2 linked regions of the Homo sapiens genome follow. The protein of the gene in region 1 interacts with the protein of each later gene in a pairwise test. Each region holds a gene or a part of one and is shown in the gene's direction. Other genes may lie near its edges. The genes, in order: VPS4B and ZFYVE19.

Evidence for each region.
Region 2: the proteins of VPS4B (region 1) and ZFYVE19 interact in binary tests that used the Homo sapiens proteins (3 or more experiments, as listed by UniProt).

Annotation. Positions count from the first base shown.
Region 1 is NC_000018.10:63,395,071-63,407,428, reverse strand, and holds part of VPS4B (vacuolar protein sorting-associated protein 4B), read left to right. Parts: intron 1-2,393; exon of another isoform or gene 2,394-3,602; coding exon 3,603-3,722; exon of another isoform or gene 3,723-4,698; intron 4,699-6,389; exon of another isoform or gene 6,390-6,582; intron 6,583-6,725; coding exon 6,726-6,882; intron 6,883-7,232; coding exon 7,233-7,381; intron 7,382-8,105; coding exon 8,106-8,187; intron 8,188-10,175; coding exon 10,176-10,395; intron 10,396-12,358.
Region 2 is NC_000015.10:40,800,209-40,812,605, forward strand, and holds the start of ZFYVE19 (abscission/NoCut checkpoint regulator), read left to right. Parts: upstream 1-6,880; 5' UTR 6,881-7,080; coding exon of another isoform or gene 7,081-7,238; 5' UTR 7,239-7,381; coding exon 7,382-7,660; intron 7,661-8,046; coding exon of another isoform or gene 8,047-8,170; intron 8,171-8,910; coding exon 8,911-9,032; intron 9,033-9,199; coding exon 9,200-9,250; intron 9,251-9,643; coding exon 9,644-9,762; intron 9,763-9,862; coding exon 9,863-10,008; intron 10,009-10,179; coding exon of another isoform or gene 10,180-10,262; exon of another isoform or gene 10,263-10,263; intron 10,264-10,440; coding exon 10,441-10,549; intron 10,550-12,397. Other genes in the region: DNAJC17 (dnaJ homolog subfamily C member 17), read right to left, coding at 7,161-7,238. UniProt on the Homo sapiens protein: Key regulator of abscission step in cytokinesis: part of the cytokinesis checkpoint, a process required to delay abscission to prevent both premature resolution of intercellular chromosome bridges and accumulation of DNA damage.

The DNA of each region.
Region 1 (12,358 bases):
GCTTTAGATTTCATTTTTAAATTTACTATCCTATTAAAAAGACTCAAAGTGAATTGTCTATTTGAATTGTTTTTGTTCTCCCTCTATATTTAAATGAAGTTTAAGAACTGGCTTTGGTTCCCAATAGTCATGTGCTGGCTTTGTTTAGAGTGTTTTCTTAGGGTTTGCCCTCTAGGATCATGGTTTGGTCTTTTTTATGTAATAGTTTTGTTGGCTTCACATCTGCCTTTAAAAGGCTCTCAGTCAACTTGCTCTTTCTTTTTGTTTATTTGCCGCCTTTTAGAGAAGGTAACACTTATACTATTAGCACACTGCAAAATTTGATGGTATTAAAATTTACTACTGTGGGAGAAGTTAGGACTTACACGTGGCTTTTATTGCCGTTGCTGTAGCTCACTTATTGATGGTTTATTTTGTTTCTTAACTGCTCTTCATCTGCTTTTCAGTGTTCCTGTTTACATTTAATTGTTTAAGCTTTCTGTGTTTACCATCCACACCTGTAAAGCCCTTTCATTCTGTTCTACTATAGCACAGTGGCATAACAGAGGGGACATAGGTTTTTGGCTCCATTCAGATCTTGATTCTGTTCAAGGGTCTGCCACTTAGAACTTTCTAATTGTGGGCAAGTGACTGAATCTCTCAGAACCAGCGTCCCCCATCTCTAAAATAGAAATGAGCAATAGCTTCCTTTCAGGGCTTTTAAGATTAATGACAGTGTAAAAACTACCTCATATATCTGACGAAGTCTAGGGACTCAATAAATGGTAGCACTGTTTATCTAAAAAGGCATCTATTTGTTGGCTGGCTTTGTTAATCACTGAGATTTGATTATTCTTCGAAATAAATTATCTAACAATTTTTCAGATTGAATTTTTTGCTCACCCATTGGTAGTATGTATTTTGTTCATTTGAATCTTACCAAATAGAATGCATAACTGGGAAGGATTTCCATTTTATAGGTTCAGCCTTGGTTACTGAATAGTGAAAATACTTACCTGAGCCAAACTTTTAGCCTTGCTATACTAGTGTCTTCGTTTTGGTAGTATTTTTGTCTTGCCTACCCTACTGGGATGTCTAGGAAAACACTGTAAGGATAATGTGTTGACAACAGACCAGGTAATGAATAGAGAACATCTTTAGATGCCAAGAACTTCAGTGGTAGATATAGTCCAAGGGCAAAATCTTGAGTTTACACTCAAGCGTAGTGGTGTCCCCACCACCTGAAACTACTGGCACACACTGCGCACTCAGTTGGCATTTATTGGGTAACCCAGTGGGTCTGTGCCAAGTGGCCTTATTCCAGTTGTAAAGCAAGACACTTTTTTTGTCTGCTCTATTGGATTTGGTTTTGTTTCCCTCTCCCTACCCTGCCCCAGGTAAAAATCAGTTGCATATCTTTAATTTTCGAAAAGATACATTTTTTTTTTCTTTTTTGTTTTTTTGAGACAAGGGTGTCGCTGTGTTGCCCAGGCTGGAGTGCAGTGGCGCAATCACGGCTTACTGCAGCCTCGAACTCCTGGGTTCCAGGGATTCTCCTGCCTCAGCCTCCTGAGTAGCTGGGAACACAGGCACACACCACCATGCCCGGCTAAGTTTTTTTTTTTGTTTGTTTGTTTGTTTGTTTGTTTGTTTTTGTAGAGGTGGGGTTTGGCCATGTTGCCCAGGCTGCTCTCGAACTCCTGAGCTCAAGTGATTTGCCCACTTCAGCCTCCCAAAGAGCTGGGATTACAATTGTGAGCCACCGCACTTGGCCGATACAACCAGTTTTTAATAGGGATTTCTCTAAATTCCCTATCACTTACAATAAAGGCCAGAAATGTAAAACAAACAAATAAAAGAGAAAAAAAACCAAATACTTAAAACATTTAAATGAGGAAATGTATTTGAAATTTCAGGATGAAATAGAATATGAAAGGAGTCCTAGCCTTTTATATTTGAATATCCTTTTTTTTCTACTTTTTAATGGTTTGCTGCTGGATTTCATACTATTGTATCTTTTTTGAATTTTTCCTTGTTTTTTGAACAGTATTTTAAATCTTTTACTTCTGTTTTAGATTATGATATTAAGTGTATATTTGTTAAAATTAAAAATCGGTTTGTGATTTGAGTTTTCTGTTAGCTAATTTTATTCAGTGAATTTTTTGTGATTAAGTAATATACTAGTAAATAGTATAGTCAAAGACCGGATAAATTTATATCATTGGAAGTACATTCCATTTGTTAGCATTTTTCATAATCCCATCCCCCCTTTTTAATTTTGCAAACCATGTCTAGTATGAGATTGTTTATCAGTAAACATTCCAAAGTCACCTTTTAACTTAGAAGTATTATATATGAAAACAAATCATGACACATTTTTAAAATTTATAGCAGAAATCTTGAGTCAGACGGTATACATATATAAAATAAAGTTTATTTTTGTTTAACTGACATGAAATCCTAGGATTACTAATCTTAATGAAACATAAAAAAGACGAAATGAATTTACTTTTTTCTTACTTTATAGTAGTCTGAACTTTTGGAATACAAAATGCTTATGGTTTCATGTAATTTTAATCTAGTAGCTAAAGATTTTCATAATTTAGGGAAGTAAGTTGCTAGTAACTAGTCTTAGAGTAACAGATTATCTTTCCTAACAAGAAGAAACAATCAGTAGCAGTGATTTCATAAAGTAATAGATTGTATAAGTGGTGGTGTTCTGTTACACTTAAAACAACTAACTACATGTCATCTTAGAACAGGCTGCTTCATAGTTTATAGTGGAACAGTTTCCATATTCTAGAAAATTAGAAAAGCTTTTGATAAAAGAGAACTAGAAAATTTGTCAGTAGGCTATATTAAAAGACATCCTTCTTGGACTCTTACTGCAATAATTGCTTTGGCTTTTGAATATACTGCATTCAGAAGCTAAATCTTCCCTGTAAGTTAACTTTGTTAATTAACAAAAGTTGTAAATAGATCTATTTAGCAGCCAAATAGAAACTTGGGCAAATCTTAGGAAAGTATTGCAAATCTGCAGGGGTATCTTTTCTCGGTTTCCCATCATCTGCTTCCATTCCTTCCTTTCCTCTCTCCTTTTCCTTCTCCCTTCTGTCTGTCTGCCTATCTTGAGTTAAATTTGTTAAGCATATTTTTTTTTTCAGTGGTTGAGGAGAGGATTAGATCACCTTTTCTTTTGGTTAACAGGAGAAATGGTAGAACAAGTACTTTTGATACTCCAAAATCAATGTATTCAAATATAACCACCTTATGGAACGTTTGGTGCTTTTCCAAACACTCTAATATTCATTATGTCATTTGATTTTCGCACCAACCTATCTAAGTAGTTTGGGCAGATGGTATTATTTTCATTTCACAAGTGAGGAAGCTGAAACAGAAGGGTAAAGTAACATGCCCCAGGTTGTCTAGTCATCCACCTGGTTCCTAGTCCTATTGACTACTCCCTAACACCTGCTTCCTGCTCACGCTATTTCAAAAAGGTTGTTAGTACATAAAACTTTCCCAATTTTATAATGCGTTTCTTTAACATCATTATTTCATGTTGTCTTCTAACTTTGGTGAAATAGTCTTTCTTAATTTAAAGATAACGTAATTTTTTGCAGGTGCCATTGTTATAGAACGACCAAATGTGAAATGGAGTGACGTTGCTGGACTTGAAGGAGCCAAAGAAGCACTGAAAGAGGCTGTGATACTGCCTATTAAATTTCCTCATCTTTTTACAGGTGACATAACTTTTAAATAATTTTATTTCATGAGTTTGTAAAAGTTCATTGATGACTGAGGTGAAGCATTGTCATTCTTGTCACTAATGAATTATCTTAAATAAATTGTGACTGTTAAAAGGTGGTGATATATCTTTATACAAGATGTTTTATTTCTTATACATATCCATATTTGCAGTGTATATATATTGCAAAACAACCTAAATGTCAACCAGTAGGGTAATTCACCAACATGCAGTGGAATACTATGCACTCAGTAAAATAGAGTGTACATCTACATTAATAAATTGAAATCTGCATTGTATTTTATTGAAGAATGTCCACATCTATTGCAAAGATCAAAAAGCAGTTATAAACTGAATAGTATGATTCCATGTTTGCTAAATGTGTATGCTGAGAAGTAAGTATAGTTAGATTCACATAGAAATATTAATATATGCCTAGGGGATAAGATTATAGGAGATTTTTACTTTTGACTTTCATCTGAATTTTTGCAATGGTTATGATTTTTAAAGAGTATTTCTTAAAAAGAGGAGTAAGAATCACTTAACAGTTTCAGAGGAAGTGCATAACCTCTAGTAGCAAAAGGACATTTCATTATCACTGTGAAGAGAATATTGCTGACCTACCATCTGGGGAAACTTACAAGTTCTAGTTCCAGCAGTAAGTGATATGTCTGTGCTAAACCATTCCTTTATATTATCCTTCTTGTGACTGATAGCCTTGACTGTAATATGGCCACACCCACAGTCTGACAGTCAGAGGTTTTTCCTTTTGCAAACATGTTGGTTTATGTCAACAGCAAATCTGCAATGTTGGCCTCAGACTGAAGAGTCCAGACAGTCGTATCGTATAGAGCAGTGATGAAGAGCAAAAAGCCTGTAGGCCACGCACTGTCCGCCTAGCTTCAAGGTGCAGTTTACTACCCAACTTCAGGAGTATGAAACTTAACAGCATAAAAGTTGACATCATAATCCTATAAAAGCACAAAAATATGGTTGAACTCATTTTATGGTATATTACTTATACCACTTTTTCTCAAACATGAGTCATTGATGTATCATCTTCATGAATTTTTCCATGTATGTGTACCATTACTAATTTTTAATATTTTTCTTTGCTTATTTTTTAGAACAACATTTTTACTAGAGTATAGCATAAATATACAGAGACATACAGGAGCCCCTGGGTGTTGGGCTTCCTTAATTGTCACAAAGCAAGCATGCCAGTGTCATCAACCAGATCCAGAAATAACAGCATTGCCAGGGACCTGGCAGGAGCCTTCTGCCTCATTCCTCCCGAGAGGTCATCTCTCTCTCTCGACTTCTAACGCCAGAGATTATTTTGCCTGTATTTGAACTTTAAATCATCTCACATATTTTTACTTAGTAACGTTATTGAAAAGACTGCTTTGTGCCTTTATAAGTGGAAAAAAAAGTGTTTTTCCAATACACATTAAAAAATTATTTAAAGTATATACCACCTAAAAGTACTTCATGTTATACCAGTGGTATATGTACCATACTCAGACACTGACTTGTAAATGTATACATGTAAAATAGGAAAATGAAATTCAAGTAACAGTTGCTTTCATAACAGTTAAGTGAAACAGTGTTATTCATCTGCATATCATTCTTTTGCAGATACTGTGTACACATCCATAGTTTGCACCTAGCAGTTTTTTTTGTTTTGTTTTGTTTTGTTTCTTTTTTTGAGACAGAGTTTCACTCTTGTCACCCAGGCTGGAATGCAATGGCGTGGTCTCGTTTCACTGCAACCTCCACCTCCCGAGTTCAAGCAATTCTCCTGCCTCAGCCTCCCGAGTATTTGGGATTACAGGCATCTGCCACCACACCCAGCTAATTTTTGTATTTTTACTAGAGTCAGGGTTTCACCATGTTGGCCACAGTTGTCCCGAGCTCCTGACCTCAGGTGATCCGCCCATCTCAGCCTCTCAAAGTGCTGGGATTACATACATGAGCCACCATGCCCAGCCATAGTTTTTTAAATGTATGTTTGATAGTTTACTGCCAGCTGTAACCCACCTGTTTTATTTTAGGCAGGATTATAATTGCTCATTAGCAAAATTGAGGCTCGAAGAGTTGATGTATTCACTGGTTATATTTTGGCAAAACTAGGATTTAAAGTAGTATCACCTTTTTGTTACCCAACCATGAAAGTCTGCTACCTAGCTGGAGGCTGAGGTGGGCAGATCACCTGAGGTCAGAAGATCGAGACCAGCCTGACCAACATGGTAAAACCCCGTCTCTACTAAAATACAAAAACTAGCCAGGCGTAATGGCGGGCACCTATAATCTCAGCTACCTGGGAGGCTGAGGCGGGAGAATTGCTTGAAACCAGGAGGCAGAGGTTGCAGTGAGCCGAGATCGCACCACTGCCCTCCAGCCTGGGCAACAAGAGTGAGACTCTGTCTCAAAAAAAATAAAATAAAAGAAAGTCTGCTACCTATAACACTAACCTGTGCTTTCCTGTGGAATCAAGAATTCAGCAGAAACTCACAAGTCATCCAAACTTTGTTAGGTTCACTTTTCCAAAGAGCATAAATATTCAAAGAAAATCTCTTCCAGCTGCCCATTTTTTATGGATATAATTTTTGTACAATATTCTGGTATCAAGCAGTGTACACAGTAGATGATCAGAAAGTACCTTTTAACTGAACTCTTTTCCCCTACTAGACTCCACGCAGGGCAGAAATCCTTTTGCCTGTGCACATGTTACGGTTTTGATACATATTGGTTGAATGAATGAGCAAACAAATGTACTTCCTGTTAGAAGGCTTATGTTATGCAAGTCTCTTTTTGATAAAGTAGTCTCTAGAAGAAACAAAATATATTTAAGACATACCTTAGATTGATTTATTTTTAAAATATTGTTTTGATCCTTAGAGGTTTAGAGTGAAAATCTTTCCAGAGTATTCCTCAGTATAGATGATACAATTAAGTGTTAAAATTCTCATGACATTTTTCTAAATCTAAATTTTAGGCAAGAGAACACCTTGGAGGGGAATCCTATTATTTGGGCCGCCTGGAACAGGAAAGTCCTACTTAGCCAAAGCTGTAGCAACAGAAGCCAACAACTCAACATTTTTTTCAATATCTTCCTCTGATCTTGTTTCTAAGTGGCTAGGTGAAAGTGAAAAGTAAGTAGTAAATCAATTTTTTAAAGTTTTTTCTTTGCCTGTAATTACTGTATCACTCCTTAATAGATTTCTTACATCACTTATAGATATTCAGAGAAGTCATGTAATACAGGTACTCACTTCTCTGTCAAATCAGTCTCTAATCTAGAATTTCTTTTGTGGGAAAAGATAGCATATATCTACAACCTAGTGAATCATAAAGTGAATTATCCAGTTGTAGCATTCTTATTTTCTGTACCTGAAACATGATTAGGCTTTTTAATCTACAGAGTTCTTGTAATATTGATATATTACTTTGTTTTAATCTTTTACTATTTTTTAGAGACTTAAAAGTTTTCATTTATTTTTAGACTGGTTAAGAATTTATTCCAACTTGCCAGAGAGAACAAGCCCTCCATTATCTTCATTGATGAAATTGATTCTCTCTGTGGTTCAAGAAGTGAAAATGAAAGTGAAGCCGCACGTAGAATTAAGACGGAGTTCCTAGTGCAAATGCAAGGTAGTGTTACTAATTTTTTTTTTCTTTTTGAGACGGAGTCTCACTCTGTCGCCCAGGCTGGAGTGCAGTGGCGCGATCTCAGCTCACTACAACCTCCACCTCCCAGGTTCAAGCAATTCTCATGCCTCAGCCTCCTGAGTAGCTGGGATTACAGGCGCGCACCACCATGCCCGGCTAATTTAATGTTACTGATTTTTAAAGTCGTTTTTGTTTATTTTATAACAATTTTTATAACAGTAATGAAAAATTCAAGCAGAATTTCTCCATTCTAACAAACTGTTTCATTTTGCCATGTTTCATTCCAATTGTCTTCCATATGCATACATAATTTTTACTCAATTGTAATTATCTTGTAGGACTCACTGACATAAATAGAAAAGAGATTTAATGTATTCATTTATAATGTACCAGGAACAACTTCAGTAAAAGTAATATGTAGACTTCGAATGAAATTTTTCAAGAAATATTTTGAAACGAATGTTAATAGTATTTTCCACAATCTGGGAGATTTGATTCATATATTTGCATCATATTGCATCATAGTGTATTTGGATCATATTGCCGTAAGGTGATATTTGATTAAATACAGTTCTTTTCCAAAGACAGACTCTCAAGATGAAGCACTTTAATGGTAAAGCACCACATTTCTTAACAGAATATATGGAAGAAGTTTAAAGAACACCAAAATGACAAATTAATTAAAGCATTACCTATTTTAATGCAGGGGTTGGTGTAGACAATGATGGAATTTTGGTTCTGGGAGCTACAAATATACCCTGGGTTCTGGATTCTGCCATTAGGCGAAGGTAGGATAATATAGTAAATATCTTATTTCTCACTGCAGATGTAACAAGTAGATGATAATTCTCTTTTTGTCTTGTCAGGAAGCATTCTAACAACTTTTCAAAAGATTTGTAATGTGCTCTAACCCTGTTGCTCCCCTGCCTTGAGTGGGAGAAGGGTGGTCATTTGCTTGTTTGTTTCCCTAGTTTATCAAATATACAAGATTTCCACACACTTCTGTCTTTCATATTAGAAAATATATTACCTAATGCTTACCTTTCATTCTGATTAAGTTTGGTGGGCACTGATGCTTCAAAAATTTATAAACATAGTTTGACAATTCAGTAAAAACCATTTATATAAAATTTTAGCAAAATGGCAATTCTATAAGTCAAAATAAGATAACCAGGTAAGATTTTTTTTTTTTTTTTGAGTCGGAGTCTCACTCTGTTGCCAGGCTGGAGTGCGGTGGTGCGATCTCGGCTCACTGCATCCTCCACCTCCCGGGTTCAAGTGATTCTCCTGCCTCAGCCTCCCAAGTAGCTGGGACTACAGGTATGCACCACCACGCCCAGCTAATTTGTATATTTTTAGTAGAGACGAGATTTCATCATGTGGCCAGGATGGTCTCGATCTCTTGACCTCATGATCCACCCGCCTCAGCCTCCGAGAGTGCTGGAATTACAGATGTGAGCCACCGTGCCCAGCCAAGATTTTTTTTTTTTTTAGTAAAAACTATATGTCAGGCCGGGTGTGGTGGCTCATGCCTGTAATCCCAGCACTTTGGGAAACCAAGGTAGGCAGATTGCCTGAGCTCAGGAGTTCAAAACCACCCTGGGCAACGTGGTGAAACCCTGTCTCTACTAAAATCCAAAAAAATTACCTGGCCATGGTGGCGCACACCTGTCTGTAGTCCCAGCTACTCGGGAAGCTGAGGTGGGAGAATCGCTTGAGCCCAGGAGGCGGAGGTTGCAGTGAGCCAAGATTGTGCCACTGCACTCCAGCTTGGGCAACAGAGTGAGACTCCATCTCAAAAAAAAATATATATATATATATATATGTGTGTGTGTGTGTATATATGTATATGTGTATATGTATATATGTATACACACACACATCTATCTATCTAATTTTTAAGTTGAAAATGAAACTTCAGTTCTAGGAAAGGTATACGGACTCTTCACTTTTCACTCTTCACAGTTCTGTATTACATTCATTTATTTTGTATGGTAAAAATTAGCACTTCAGTTTTTGCCACTTTTATCCCATTCACTTGATGATTTGCGCCAGCATTCTAGCTTACCATCCAGTACCAAGAAAGGAAATGTGCAGGGTATTTTTGAAAAATTGCCTTATTCTGCACCCATCTCTAGAGGCAACGGAAACTTTAAATTCTTTTCATTGTCACAGAGAGTTACCTGGAGAAAAAACAGTCTGCTCAGACCACTTAAATTATCCCTCATCGTTGCTTCTCTGTCTCCAAATACCGAAATTCTAAGAAAGCAAGCAAAATTATTGTTAATGAAACATAGTGTTTATTCTTTATAATATAGGATTGTTCTGGATGTATTCATTAAAGTGGACATTTTGTGTAATATATATCCTATAAGATTGTGAGGTAATTCTGTTTTGAATGTAGAGAATTACTGTGTCATCTCTACTCCTGTTTTATATTGTTAATCATTAGTCCCTTGATCAAGAGTTCAGAGTACAATTTTGTGGGAAACTGTAACCCTGTAGGACCTCTTTTTATTTCATGAATTCCAGACATAGGAACACTGTGGCCAAAATAACCCAAAAATGCACGAAAGATTCAGCCACTTCAAACTGGCTCCCAGGCTATTTTGATTTTATTTGTTTGTTTTTAATGTGTTCTGGATATTATCCCTTTAACCTAAATATATATGTTTAACCTTGGCACATACAGGCCCACTTAACTTAGTATCTGTTTCTTCTTGGAAATATCCTAATTTTCAATTAAATATATTCTTGATGTAATTTCTCTTTTAAGATTTGAGAAACGAATTTATATTCCCTTGCCGGAACCCCATGCCCGAGCAGCAATGTTTAAACTGCACCTAGGGACCACTCAGAACAGTCTCACGGAAGCAGACTTTCGGGAACTTGGGAGGAAAACAGATGGTTATTCAGGGGCAGATATAAGTATCATTGTACGTGATGCCCTTATGCAGCCTGTTAGGAAAGTACAGTCAGCTACTCATTTTAAAAAGGTAAGTCATTTTTATCTATCCTTTCCTATCTTTTTTTTTTTTTTTTGAGACAGTCTCACTCTGTTGCCCAGGCTGGAGTGCAGTGGCACTATCTGGGCTTGCTGCAACCTCCGCCTCCCGGGTTCAAGCAATTCTCATGCCTTAGCCTCCTGAGTAGCTGGAATTACAGGCGTGTGCCACCACGCCTGGCTAATTTTTTGTATTTTTAGTAGAGACAGGATTTCACCATGTTGGCCAGGCTGGTCTCGAACTCCTGACTCCAGGTGATCCACCCACCTCGGCCTCCCAAAGGCGTGAGCCACTGCGCCTGGCCCTTTTCCTGTATTTTTAAAATCAAGTTTCAAGACCGTCATTGGTTTGTCTTCAAAGAATTTGGGAGGATTTCAGTGTTGTATAATAATACCATAAGTGGGTTTACATAATAGACATATTTCTGTGTCACTGAAACAAGTTCTTTAATAAAGTTTATTTATTGGCCATTTTTGGCTGGGTGCAGTGCCCCATACCTGTAATCCCAGCACTTTAGGAGGCCGAGGTGGGCAGATCTCTTGAGCTCAGGAGAGACCAGCCTCAGGCAACATGGCAAAACCCCATCTCTGTAAAAAATACAAAAATTAGCTGGATGTGGTGGCACACTCCTGTAGTCCCAGCTACTTGGGAGGCTGAAGTGGGAGAATCTCTTGAGCCCAGGAGGTGGAGGTTGCAGTGAGCCGAGATTGCACCAGTGTACTCCAGCCTGGGTGACACAGTGAGACCCTGTCTTAAAAAAAGAAAAGGCCTTATTAATCATCCTAATGTGTTTTAAATTTTCCTATGAAATGATTTTTGAAGTATTTGTGTATTATTTTGATATAAGTATAGAAACTTAAATGTACAGATGTAAGGCTGCTTCTGACACATCTAGAATATTTTTGAGTAGAATCTGGTGCATTTATACCTCATAAAGTAAAAATAATAATAGCTAATATCTTTTAAATATTCACATGCCTGGCACTGTGTTCTGTCTTTTATCTTACTATTTCATTTGGTCTTCACAAAAATCAGCAAGAGAGGTACATGTAGCCAGCCACCTAATGGTGGTTAGTCTTGGACGTAGGTGCTAACACAGTAGCTAGAGTGGGACAGACATGTGATTTGCCTGGAGGTGAGGTGTGTTTCCAAATCTGAAATCTCAGCCATTCTGCTATCCTGCCCCTCCTGTGTTCTGTTTTGTCTGCAAGAACAAGTTAAGCATCTGTGGCTGAGATAAAGTTTTATAAGAAGGCTGTGGTCTTGAGATACCCAGTTTGAGTAACAATGAACTAGGTAATCTGGACCAACCCTTTTGCTGTGAACAACAGTATCCAGTATTACTCATGAACATACATGTGAAAAACTATTAGCAAACCTAATCTCATAATGTATGTCAAGACTAATATGACTAAGTCACATACGTATATTTATCATGTACCATAATAAGATTTTTTTAAGTTAACAAGCTTGAATTAAAATCTGAATTTGAAGCCTGGCACCATTTACTTGTTATACCTTTTTGAGCAAATTCTATTACTTCTTTAAAGCTCATTTTTATCATTTCTAAAATGGGGATGTGATAATGCTATTTTGAAGTCCTTTCCAATAATGAAGTGATATAATACTCATAAAACACCAGTCGTGGTACTTCAGATGCGTAGGGAATGTTACTCATCCACCCTTCTTCAGCCATTTCATTACTGAAGTACTGTTAAGTTTATGCCACAGCCATTATGTTTTTTCTTAAATTCTCTTTGCCATTTAGAAACTATAAATGCATAGGAACTCAGTCCTTTCCTACTGAGAGTTTGTCACTCAATTCTGCATATTACTGCCAGGGTGAGCTCACATGACGCTGAAGCCAGGTCCTTGTTAGTGGGATGAAGGTGACACAGCCAGATGAGTTTTATCTCTGCAGCTGGGGATCACCAGCTGCAGCAGACCTCTCAGC
Region 2 (12,397 bases), on another chromosome or scaffold:
AGGCAACTGCCACTACGCCCAGCTAATTTTTGTATTTTTAGTAGAGACGGGGTTTCACCATGTTGGGCAGGCTGGTCTTGAACTACTGACCTCAGGTGATCCACCTGCCTCGGCCTCCCAAAGTGCTGGGATTACAGGCGTGTGCCACCGCACCTGGCCTCAACATGGTTTTGATCTGCATTTACCTAATGACTAGTGAAGTTGAGCATCTTTTCATGTGTTTATTGACCATTTGTACATCATCTTTGGGGAAATGTCTATTGAGATTGTCTTTTTCTTTTTTTTTTTTTAATTTTTTTACAGACAGAGTTTCACTCTGTCACCCAGGCTGGAGCATGGTGGCGTGATCAGAGCTCACTGTAACTTCAAACTCCTGGCTTGCCCATTTTTTAACCGAGTTGTTTTTTTGGTTGTTGAGCTGTGTTTTTTTTTCTACAATCATTTAAACATGTAAAACCCATTCTTAGCACATAAGCCATTAAAAAAAAAAAAGGTCAGCTGGGCACGGTGGCTCACGCCTGTAATCCCAGCACTTTGGTCAGGAGTTCAAGACCAGCCAGGCCAAGAGAGTGAAACCACATCTCCACTAAAAATATAAAAATTAGCCAGGCGTGGTGGCAGGAGCCTGTAATCTCGGCTACTCCGGAGACTGAAGCAGAGAATTGCTTGAACCTGGGAGGCAGAGGTTATAGTGAGCCGAGATTGCGCCACCATGCTCCAGCCTGGGCGACAGCGAGACTCCGTCTCAAAAAAAAAAAAAAAAAGGTCATGGGCCATTTGGCCCCTCAAACTGTAGTTTGCCCTACTCCTTCATTTTACATTTGGGGAAAGTCAGGTCCTGAGAGACGCAGTGACTGCCCTTGGTCTCCTGATTCTCAAGTAAAGTCGTTGCAGTGGTCTCTTTAGCTACTACTTCATTCATTCAACAAATACTTATTGAGAACCTACTATGTGCCAGTCACCAGGTAAGGGGCTGCTACAGAAGAGCATGAATCAGATCTGGTCCTCAGAAGTAGGAGTGCAGAGGGGATTAAGGCATGAGACAAATAATCACACAGATAAATACATAATTGCAAACTGAAATAAGTGCTAGAAAAAAGAAAAACCAGCTGCCATGAAATAGAATATAAGGCAAGGCTTCTCTGAGGATGCCATTTCGACTGAGTTCTGAAGGACAAGTAAAAGCAACCCAGATTAGCAGAAGGGGAGGAAGAGCATTCCTGGCAGAGGAAAATGTATGAATGAGCTAAGAAATTGTTGAGTATTGGCTGGGTGCGGTGGCTCACGCCTGCAATCCCAGCACTTTGGGAGGCCGAGGTGGGCGGATCACGAGGTCAGGAGATCAAGACCATCCTGTGAATGGTGAAACCCCGTCTCTACTAAAAATACAAAAAATTAGCCGGGCGTGGTGGCGGGCGCCTGTAGTCCCAGCTACTCAGGAGGCTGAGACGGGAGAATGGCGTGAACCTGGGAGGCGGAGCTTGCAGCCACTGCACTCCAGCCTGGGTGACAGAGCGAGACTCCGTCTCAAAAAAAAAAAAAAAAAAAAGAAAAGAAAAGAAATTCTATTGAGTATTTTATTAGAAGTGCTAAATAGGGTTTTCAGGGAGTAGCAAGATCATTCCATTTTCTGTGAGGAGAATTGGAGAGGCTCAATAGATCAGAATGGAATAGGCTGAAAGCAGAAAAAAGTTGGCAGGCTCCTCTAAACATTCAGCTGAGTGGATGGGGGCCTGGGCTGGAGCAGTAGTGGTGGAGACAGAGAGGGTGAACAGGTTTGGGGATTATTTGGGAGGCTGACTCATCAGGACCCGGTGATGTTCTAGATGGCAGGGGTGAGAGGATAGGGAGGTACTGAGAATGACTCCAGGTTCCTAGCTTGAATGGATGGATGGTGGTGCCACAAGATGGGGAAATCCAAGGAAGGAGCAGGTTTGGAGAGAGAATTGAAAGAGTTCAATTTTTTTTTTTTTTTTTTTCGAGACAGATTCTAGCTCCGTCACCCAGGCTGGAGTGCAGTGGCTTGATCTCAGCTCACTGCAACCTCCGCCTCCCAGGTTCAAGCGATTCTCCTGCCTCAGCCTCCCAGTAGCTGGGACTACAGGCACGTGCCACCGCGTCTGGCTAGTTTTTATATTTTTAGTAGAGATAGGATTTCACCCTGTTGGCCAGGCTGTCTAAAACTCCTGACCTCAGGTGATCTGCCTGCCTGGGCCTCTCGAAGTGCTGGGATTACAGACATGAGCCACTGCGCCTGGCCAATTTTTGGATGTAGTAAGATTTAGACCGCTGTGAAACATCCACATGGAGGGATCAAACAGGCAGATAGATACACAGATTTGAGATTCAGAGAAGTAGTCTGAACACAAGTTAAATTTGGTGGTGGTGCTCATCACTACCACTGAACCGCGCTGGACAGGGCCAGGGAGCCTTAGCAGAAGGAGCAGAGGCCTGAGCTGGACATCAGGGCATCAGGGCATCAGGGCATCAGGGTTCTAGTCCCAATTCTGCCACTAACCACCTTCTCCGAGCTGCAGTTTCGCCATCAGTAACACAGGGAGCTTGGCCTCCATTAGGGCTTCTTTGACTTTTGGATTAAAATTCCCTCCTCTGGCCAGGCGTGGTAGCTCATGCCTATAACCCAAACACTTTTCAGAGGCCAAGGCGGGAGGACTGCTTGAACCCAGGAGTTCAAGACCAACCTGGCCAACATGGTGGAACCCGATCTCTACAAAAATACAAAAATTAGCCAGGCATGGCGGTGCACACCTGTGGTCCCAGCTACTTTTGAGGCTGAGGTGGGAGGATTGCTTGAGCCCAGGAGGCAGAGTTTGCAGTGAGCAGTAATCATGCCACTGACTCCAGCGTGGGTAACACAGAGAGACCCTGGGTCAAAAAAAAAAAAAAGAAAAAAAAAGTCCTCCTCTCCTCCAGAATAAATACAAAAAAAAAAAAAATCACGCATGATTTTCAGAGGTTCCTTCACCCAGTTCCTGGAGCCTTTCTGTAGAGGGCAAATTGAGAACTCCTAGGCTATTTGGACAACCAGTTTAGGAGTTCTTCCTTGTATACACTTTAAATATTTGTTTGTCCTCTAGGTTGCCCTATGGCAGCAACCTAGGTTGTCTATGACAGGTATTAAACCATGGTGCGGGGACACCAGGGCCTAGGTTTTTCTTGCTTTCTACCAAAAAGTGTGTTGCCATGAAGCTAGCCAGTGTATCCAAAGTGTAAATGGGAGTAAGTGCTAGAAAGGAGAATGGCTGCTATGAAAAGAAAAATAGGTAAGGCCTCTTTGAGGGTGCCACCTACTTATGCTCCAAAATAGACTGTATGTATTAATATATACATTTGCTTTCTTGGAATGCCCTGCCTCCATCTCCACATGTCCAAACTCTGCCCATTCTTCAAGGCCCCAAATACCTTCTCTCCTGCCTTTATTCCTTCTCTCAAACTAATAGCAATCTCAGCCTACACTGAACATCCACAGCACTTTGTACCCCTCTTAAGGAACTCACCATGTCTCCCTTGTATGCGTGAATCTTGCCCCCCCATTAAAGGCAGGAGCAGCACCTGTTACCCTTTATAGAGTGGCTTCACACCTATCCCTTATCTCATCTGAGTTAGAACTGGATCCCAGCCACCACTGCCCAGCTCAGACCTTGGTCTCTTGCCTAGACACCAGCCCCATCTGACCCCCTAGTGGCAGCTCTTCCATTCCTCCCACCCCCACCCATTTTCATTATGCACACTAGTGTTGAATTTTCTTTTCTTTTTTAAGAGTGGCAGGGTCTCACCCTGTCATCCAGGCTGGAATACAGTGGCAAAATCATAGCTCACTGAAACTTCCCAGGCTCAAGTGATCCTCCCACCTCAGCCTCCCATGTAGCGGGGACTACAGGTGCGTAACACCCTGCCCAGCTTTTTTTTTTATATATAGAGAGAGAGACAGGCTCTCACTACGTTTCCCAGGCTGGTCTCAAACTCCTGGCCTCAAGCGTTCCTTCCACCTTGGCCTCCCAAAGTGCTGGGATTGCAGGTGTGAGCCATCACACTCAGTCAAATACTTTCTTTAAAATCCAATTATGGGCAGGGCACAGTGGCTCATGCCTGCAATCCCAGCACTCTGGGAGACCAGGCAGGAGGATAGCTTGAACCCAGGAGTTCGACACCAGCCTGGGCAATATAGCTGGACCCCGTCTCTGGAAAAAAAAAAAAAGCAAAAACAAACACAAAACAAATTAGCCAGGCATGATGATGCACACCTGCAGTCCCAACTACATGAGAGGCTGAGGTGGGATCACTTGAGCCCAGGAAGTCGAGGCTGCAGTGAGCTGTGATTGTGCCACTGCATTCCAGCCTGAATGACAGTGAGATCTTTTCTCAAAAAATAGACATAAAAATAAAAAAAAAATAAAATCTGATTATGTAACTTCTCTAATTAATAGAGAATGACTTCCAACTGACTTCCTCAGGAGTTCTCAACTTCAGGGTTAGAAACTCTAGATTTCAGCCGGGCGCGGTGGCTCACGCCTGTAATCCCAGCACTTTGGGAGGCCAAGGCCGGCAGATCACTTGAGGTCAGGAGTTCAAGACCAGCCTGACCAACATGGTGAAACCCTGTCTCTGATAAAAACACAAAAATTAGCTGGGTGTGGTGGCACATGCCTGTAATCCCAGCTGCTCAGGAGGCTGAGGCAGGAGAATTCCCTGAACCTGGGGGGCAGAGGTTGCAGTGAGCCAAGGTTGCACCACTGCACTCCAGCCTAGGCAAGAGAGTGAGACTCCGTCTCAAAAAAAAACCCTCCAGATTTCCCACTTGGATCTTTTGTGAAATGTCTCAAATAGTTTCTCACTATTAATAAAGTACTAATTAAATAATTTGCAGGCAGGGCATAGTGGCTCACACCTGTAATCCCAGCACTTTGGGAGGCCGAGGTGGGAAGATCACGAGGTCAGGAATCCAAGACTGGCCTGGCCAACACGGTGAGACCCCGTCTCTACTAAAAATACAAAAATTAGCTGGGCGTGGTGGCGGGTGCCTGTAATCCCAGCTACTTGGGAGGCTGAGGCAGGAGAATCACTTGAAACAGGAAGGCGGAGGTTGCAGTGAGCCGAGATCATGCCACTGCACTCCAGCCTGGGCCAAAGAGTGATACTCTGTCTCAAAAAAAAAAAAAAAAAAAAAATTAGCCGGGCGTGGTGGTACATGCCTGTAGTCCCAGCTACTCCGGAGGCTGAGGCAGGAGAATCGCTTGAACCTGGGAGGCAGAAGTTGCAGTAAGCTGAGATTGCGCCACTGCACTCCAGCCTGGGCGACAGAGCGAGACTCCGTCTCAAAAAATAATAATAGGCCGGGCACGGTGGCTCACGCTTGTAATCCCAGCACTTTGGGAGGCTGAGGTGGGCAGATCACGAGGTCAGGAGATCGAGACCACGGTGAAACCCCGTCTCTACTAAAAATAAAAATTATTAGCCGGGCATGGTGGCAGGCGCCTGTAGTCCCAGCTACTTGGAGAGGCTCAGGCAGGAGAATGGCGTGAACCCGAGAGGCGGAGGTTGCAGTAAGCCGAGATCGCGCCACTGCACTCCAGCCTGGGCCACAGAGCGAGACTCCGTCTCAAAAACAATAATAAAAAATAATAATAATAAAGAATTTAAAAAATAATAATTTGTAAACATAGAGCACTTAGAATACTATCCAGAAAAAAAAAATACTGTCTAGGACATAGTAAGCATTATACAGATGTTAGGAATTATTAATCCTAAAATATTGAAACACGAGAGAGGTGGAGCAGATGCTTTTGATGCTTCATAGACATCCCATGGCCATTTCTGATTTCAGCTGCGGCTGCAGGGGACAGATTTGTGCAGGTTGACAGCATTTCTCAAGGGCCCTCTGGGTCTCTCTGATTTTCTGCCCCAGAGCTTCCTCTTCTCAAAAGCTCACTCACCCCATGAGCAGGGCAGCCCAGAAGTACTGGGACATTAGTGGGCACTATTTTTTTTTCCTTTTTTTTTTTTTTTTTTGAGACAGTCTCGCTCTGTCGCCCAGACTGGAGTGCAGTGGTGCAATCTCAGCTCACTGCAACCTCCGCCTCCCGGGTTCCAGTGATTCTCCTGCCTCAGCCTCCCAAGTAGCTGGGACTACAGGTGTGTGCCACCACGCCCGGCTAATTTTTGTATTTTTAGTAGAGAAGGGGTTTCAGCATATTGGTCAGGCTGGTCTCGAACTTCTGACCACATGATCCGCCCGCCTCGGCCTCCCAAAGTGCTGAGATTACAGGCGTGAGCCACCGCGCCCGGCCTAGTAGACACTAATTTTCTTTCTTTCTTTCTTTTTTTGAGAAAGAGTCTTGCTCTGTCGCCCAGGATGGAGTGCAGTGGCGCGATCTCGGCTCAGTTGGGCACTAATTTTCATTTGATGAACGCCTCTCCTTCGTATATTGTTAAAACTACCACCATGATCCAGGGGGAGATAAAAGAAATCCTAAATCCAGCTTGATCAGTGTTTCACTCCCTGGCATCTTTATCACCACCTAAGGTAGCATGGACCTCTATACCATCTGCCTTAACCTTCTGATCCTCCTGCTTTTAGCCCACTAACTAGCACATGCTGAGAAGGGCATCAGCTACTTGAAAAGAGTCAATGGGCTTGAGTGGAAAAGAAAATAGAGACAGCAGGGTCATCGGTCACATTGGCAAGGGGGCATGAAAAGGGAGTGGAGAGGCTTTGAGATCTTACTTTTCTTTCGTTCTAGGCTCTTAGTGGAAGAATTAAATCAGCCTGCAGAAGAGACTGAAATGAGGCACCTCTTGTCACAGTCAAGGCAGAAGCGGAAACGGAGGCCGAGACTGCGCAGGCGCAGAGGAGGCTAGCGTTCCTTGCTGCCTCGCCCCGCGGCCTCTAGGAGACAGGGGCCACGGGGAGAGCACAGCCACCCGGCGCGAAGAGCCCTCTGTACCCCGCTTCCTCTTGAGGCCCTCGGACCGTCCAGGAAATGTCTGGGAGCCCGCCTGCGGAGGGCATAGCGCCGACCCTCGCTCCCCGCCCAGGACCCGAATGAACCTGGAGAGCGGATGCCAGCAGTGGCCGAGGCGCTAGGACAGGAAGGACCGCCAGACCTCTCAAGATCAGCCTTCCTCGCCACCGTTCTCACCTCTTTGTCCGCTGCCTTCTCCTCAATGCCTAGCAGCGCGTACAGGTCCATCTGTAAGAGCTCCTTGGTCACTGCCATGGTTCCGGCCTGACGGATTCGTACTACAACTCCCAAGAGTCTAAGCGCGCGTGAGGACTGCAGGCTCCGAGCGGCGCCTAGCCCTCTGGGAATTGTGTTCTGGGTCAGGCTTGACTGACTCTGAGGGAGGCCGGCAGTCGTGAATGAACTACGACTCCCAGCAGCCCCCGTTGCCGCCGCTGCCGTACGCTGGCTGCAGGAGAGCGTCCGGATTCCCTGCTCTAGGTCGCGGCGGGACAGTGCCAGTGGGCGTGTGGGGCGGGGCAGGGCAGGGAAGGGAAGGGCGGAGCTGGGGTGAGGGTCCAAGGGGCCCAGGACTTGGCCGGCGTGATCTCAGCTCTGCAGACCCTGCGGTGCTGGGAGCCACCATGGAGAGTAGGTGCTACGGCTGCGCTGTCAAGTTCACCCTCTTCAAGAAGGAGGCGAGTCTTCCCTCCCCGAGGGCTGCAGGGCCAGGGAGGAGAGGAGGGAAAAGCGCGGGACTTAACGTCCAAAGACTTGGTCTTACGGCTCCTTTCCAGCTGTGTGGTTTTGATGAAGTCATTGATCCTCAGTTTCCATTTCTGTAAAATGGGGCTAACATTCTCTCGCTTTCAGGGTTTATGTGAGGGTCCACTGAAGTGCTTTAGGTGAGAGTTCCCTATAAACTGTAAAGCGCGCTGCCGTCGTTTTTGCAAAGCTACTCTTTTCTGTCGGCCCAGTGTAGCATCTGGCGGTTTTCTTCTCTCCACCCTGCTCCTCCGAAGCGCGGTGTCCATCACACCAAGCCCGTTACTCCCTCTGCTCTGAAATCTTCCCCATCCCGCAGCCTGCCCTTCTCCAGGTCGCTGGAGTTAGATTACCACACTTCCTCCTGCTTCCGGGGCACCATGGTGAAGGCTGACTGTCCTGTCCCTATCACAGACCTGCCAGATTCCTCTGGTAAACTGCAGGTTCCCTCTGCCTCAGTTGTGGCCAGGGATTCTGACCAGGAGATGATGGGAACTAGATGGAGTAAATTAGTGTCACGCAGGAAGGCAGGACCGTGCAGCATTCACCAACCTGGATTTTGGAGTCAGCGTTCAAATCTGAGCTCTGCTGTCTTATTGAGGCGGTGACCTTGGTTTGGATAAGTTATGTAACCTCTCTGGCCCTCTCAAAATAAGGATAATCACGGTTGGCATCAAGATTAAGTAAAATAATGTGTGTAAATTGTAAGGAATAAATCACATGATGAATGTTAAGTACTGGGTTTAGTGCCTGGCACATAGTAAGTGCTTAATAAATGGAGGCTATTGTTAGCCCATCCTGAGCCAAGCCTCCCTCCATCTCTGCAAGAGCAGAGGAGGCATCGGCTCTGCCCTGTCTCTCTGATTCTCCTTTGTGGAAGAGTCAGTGGCCTGAAATACTGGGCTTTATCTATCTGTCTTCTACATCCCTGGGTCAGGGAATTGAAGACAGGGTAGAAAGCATGGGAATTTTGTATAAACCTTCATTTGGCTTGAATAAGGTACTGGAAACCGAGGAATTGCTTTACTCACCATCCCTAGGCCTTAGGGGCCCCACTCCTCTTCTTCCTCCCAGCAGCTGGTCATAACTTCAGTGACTTCTCTCTGTGTGTGCTTGGAGAGTCCCTGGGAGCAGCCTGCAGGGGCGGGTGAGAGGGGGATCTCCCGCTTCATGTTTCTTGTAGTACGGCTGTAAGAATTGTGGCAGGGCCTTCTGTTCAGGCTGCCTAAGCTTCAGTGCAGCAGTGCCTCGGACTGGGAACACCCAACAGAAAGTCTGCAAGCAATGCCATGAGGTCCTGACCAGGTAAGAGGCAGGCATGGGTGAAAGTTCAGCCAAGTATGGCAGTGGGCATCTGGCCAGCCCTCACAGCTTTGTACTCTGTCGCGAGAGTCAGCCGAGGAAGTGTTTGGAGTGGGGGGCACTGCCTGGTGGGATGGCAGGATTTATAACACTAGATTTCTTCTCTGTAGAGGGTCTTCTGCCAATGCCTCCAAGTGGTCACCACCTCAGAACTATAAGAAGTAAGTGCTGAAGAGAAAAAGACAAAGAGCATTGGGGAAAGGATAAGGGAGCCATAGGGAAAGACCCTGCCCCCATCTTCTAGATAAAATGAGCACAGAATCAGGAGAATTCTCTCCTCTCTGGCTCCTGACTGCCCTCTTGGGCTGGTAAAGCAGCTCTTCAGCCCTCTCTCCAGGACAGGCACTTGGTAGAGCTTGTCCTTTCAGCTGGACCGTCTGGCTGGTCAGCCAGGTTGGGCTGCAGGGTGACATGAGTGAGGGGCACAGCAGATTGCCCATTGGAGGCCTCCCTAAGTGCCCAGAAATGATTTGATTTGAATGGGAAACAGTGAGTGGGTGCCTTCACTCTTCCCCTCTGCCTTCTTCAAGAGCCTCTATCTCATATCCTGCCAGGCGTGTGGCAGCCTTGGAAGCCAAGCAAAAGCCCAGCACTTCCCAGAGCCAGGGACTGACACGACAAGACCAGATGATTGCTGAGCGCCTAGCACGACTCCGCCAGGAGAACAAGCCCAGTGAGCAGGGGCAGATGGGGTTGCCTAGAGGACACAGTCCAGGGCTTCTGGGACTGAGATGCCTCTGGCCCTTACAAGGCTCCCCCCATGCCAATTGCAGAGTTAGTCCCCTCACAGGCAGAGATAGAGGCACGGCTGGCTGCCCTAAAGGATGAACGTCAGGGTTCCATCCCTTCCACCCAGGAAATGGAGGCACGACTTGCAGCGTTGCAGGGCAGAGTTCTACCTTCTCAAACCCCCCAGCCGGTGAGTGTTATGGCTTAGGAGAGAAGCGGGGGTGCTAGCGGGAGGACCCAGCAGAAGCCCAGATACAGGTATTGGGGTGATACAAAAGTAATTGTGGTTTTTGTCATTACTTTTAATTGCAAAAACCTCAGTTACTTTTGCACCAACCTTTGTACTTTATGTACTTTGCAGGAGTTGGCAAAGCCTCCCACCCCTACCTCCTGATCCTCAGGCCTGCTACCAGACCCGGGGACCAGGGACAAACAGCACGATAGGGTAGGGCAGGAAAAAGTGGCCCCTCAGTCCTGTTGGGGACGGCCAGACCTACTTGATTATGTGGGCCCTGGATCCCTCTCCTTTCCCTGGGCTTTGAGAACTACTTAGCATCCATCCCTGACCTAGACTGCTTCTGGGCTACCCCTGCTCTCCACTGAGGTTTCCTCGTCTGTGCAGGCACATCACACACCGGACACCAGGACCCAAGCCCAGCAGACACAGGATCTGCTAACGCAGCTGGCAGCTGAGGTGGCTATCGATGAAAGCTGGAAAGGAGGAGGCCCAGGTAACCCCTCCACTTGGCTCCCTAGGAATCTGCCCTACCTCTTTCCCCAGACTGGAGAGGCTCTGCTGTCCACCCTCTGGGAGATGAATATAAATCGGAGAGTGATCAACGTTATAAGAGTTACCATTCATTGAGTGCTTACTCCAAAGGGAGCCAGTGTAAGCCTAGTGTTTAAGTGCACGGGCTTTAGAATCAGACAGTGATTCCCATTTCTACCACGTATTAGCTGTGTGATGCTGGACAAGTTACTTGACCTAAGTCTCACTTTCCTCATGTGTAAAATGAAGGTATGTATGGAAAAACCTACCTCACAGGGAAATCAGGAGGAGTAAACGAGATAATCCAATAAGTGCTTGGGAACATACCTGACTCATAGTGAGTACTCAGTGAATATTCTCTGCAATCATGATGTTGATAAGGAGGAAGAAGCTATTTAGTAAAACCAGCCACATCTCAATGCTCAGTAGCCATATGGGCTTCATGGCTACCATCTTGGACAGCACAGATATAGAACATGATATGGAATGTTTCCATCATCATAGAACATTCTGTTGGACAGTGCTGTTTGAAGGCTTCAGAGCAGTGGTTTTCAACAAAGGATGATTTTGCCCCCAGGCTACTTGTGGCAACATTTAGAGACTTTTTGGTTGTCACAACCCAGAGGATATTACTGGCACCTACAGGATAGAAGCCAGGGATGCTACTAAATCTACTATGTCACAGGACAGCACATCATGATGAAGAATTACCCGGTCCAAAGTGTCAAGAGAACTAAGATTGAGAAGTCCTGCTTTAGAGGCACAATCTCATTGAATATCCTCAATAATCTTATGAGGCCAGGTGTGGCTCACGCCTGTAATCCTAAGCACTTAAGGAGGCAGAGGCAGGAGGGAGGATAGCTTGAGCTGGGGAATTTAAGACCTGCCTGGGCAACATAGCAAGACTCTGTTTAAAAAAAAAATCTTATAAGGTACATACTATTCTTTTTTATAAATGAGGAAACAGGCCTGGTGAGCTTGAGGAACTTGACCAAGGTCACACAGCTATTAAGCTGCAGAGATGAGACTTAAACCTAAAGCTGTGATTTTAAACCTCTTGCTCTGAAACACTAAACTGAAGGTGACTGTGTCAGAGCCACACCTAATCTGGTAAAATTCTTCCTGCCCAGTGATATACAAGCTCTTAGCTTCCTTCATTGCCCTCTCTGTGCTAATCCCAGGAGATGCTAATTCCTGCCCTGAAAGGCAAAGAGATCGGCTGAACCTGGGCCTTATCATGTCTTGATCCTTTAGGGCAGTGATTCTCAAACCATAGGACGCCCACCCTTAGGGCAGAATGTTAAAATATCAGGTAGATGGGGATGGATGTGGTTGGAAAAGACATGGGTAAAATTATTAGTTTTTTACATTTGGAAAAATGGAGGAATACTAATTTTATTTGTGATAGAAACCATAGGCGCTAGTGCTGAGCAAAAAGCTGATGATCTGTGATTAGAAAGGGTTGAGAAAAGCTGGGCATGATGGCTCACGCCTGTAATCCCAGCACTTTGGGAGGCTGAGGCGGGTGGATCACGAGGTCAGGAGTTGGAGACCAGCCTGACCAACATGTTGAAACCCCGTCTCTACTAAAAATACAAAAATTAGCCGGGCATGGTGTCACGTGCCTGTAATCCCAGTTACTCAGGAGGCTGAGGCAGGAGAATCGCTTGAATCCAGGAGGCAGAGGTTGCAGTGAGCTGAGATTGCACCACTGCACTCCGGCCTGGGTGACAGAGCGAGACTCCATCTCAAAAAAAAAAAAAAAGAAAGAAAGAAAGAAAGAAAGAAAGAAAGAAAAAATTATTAAAGA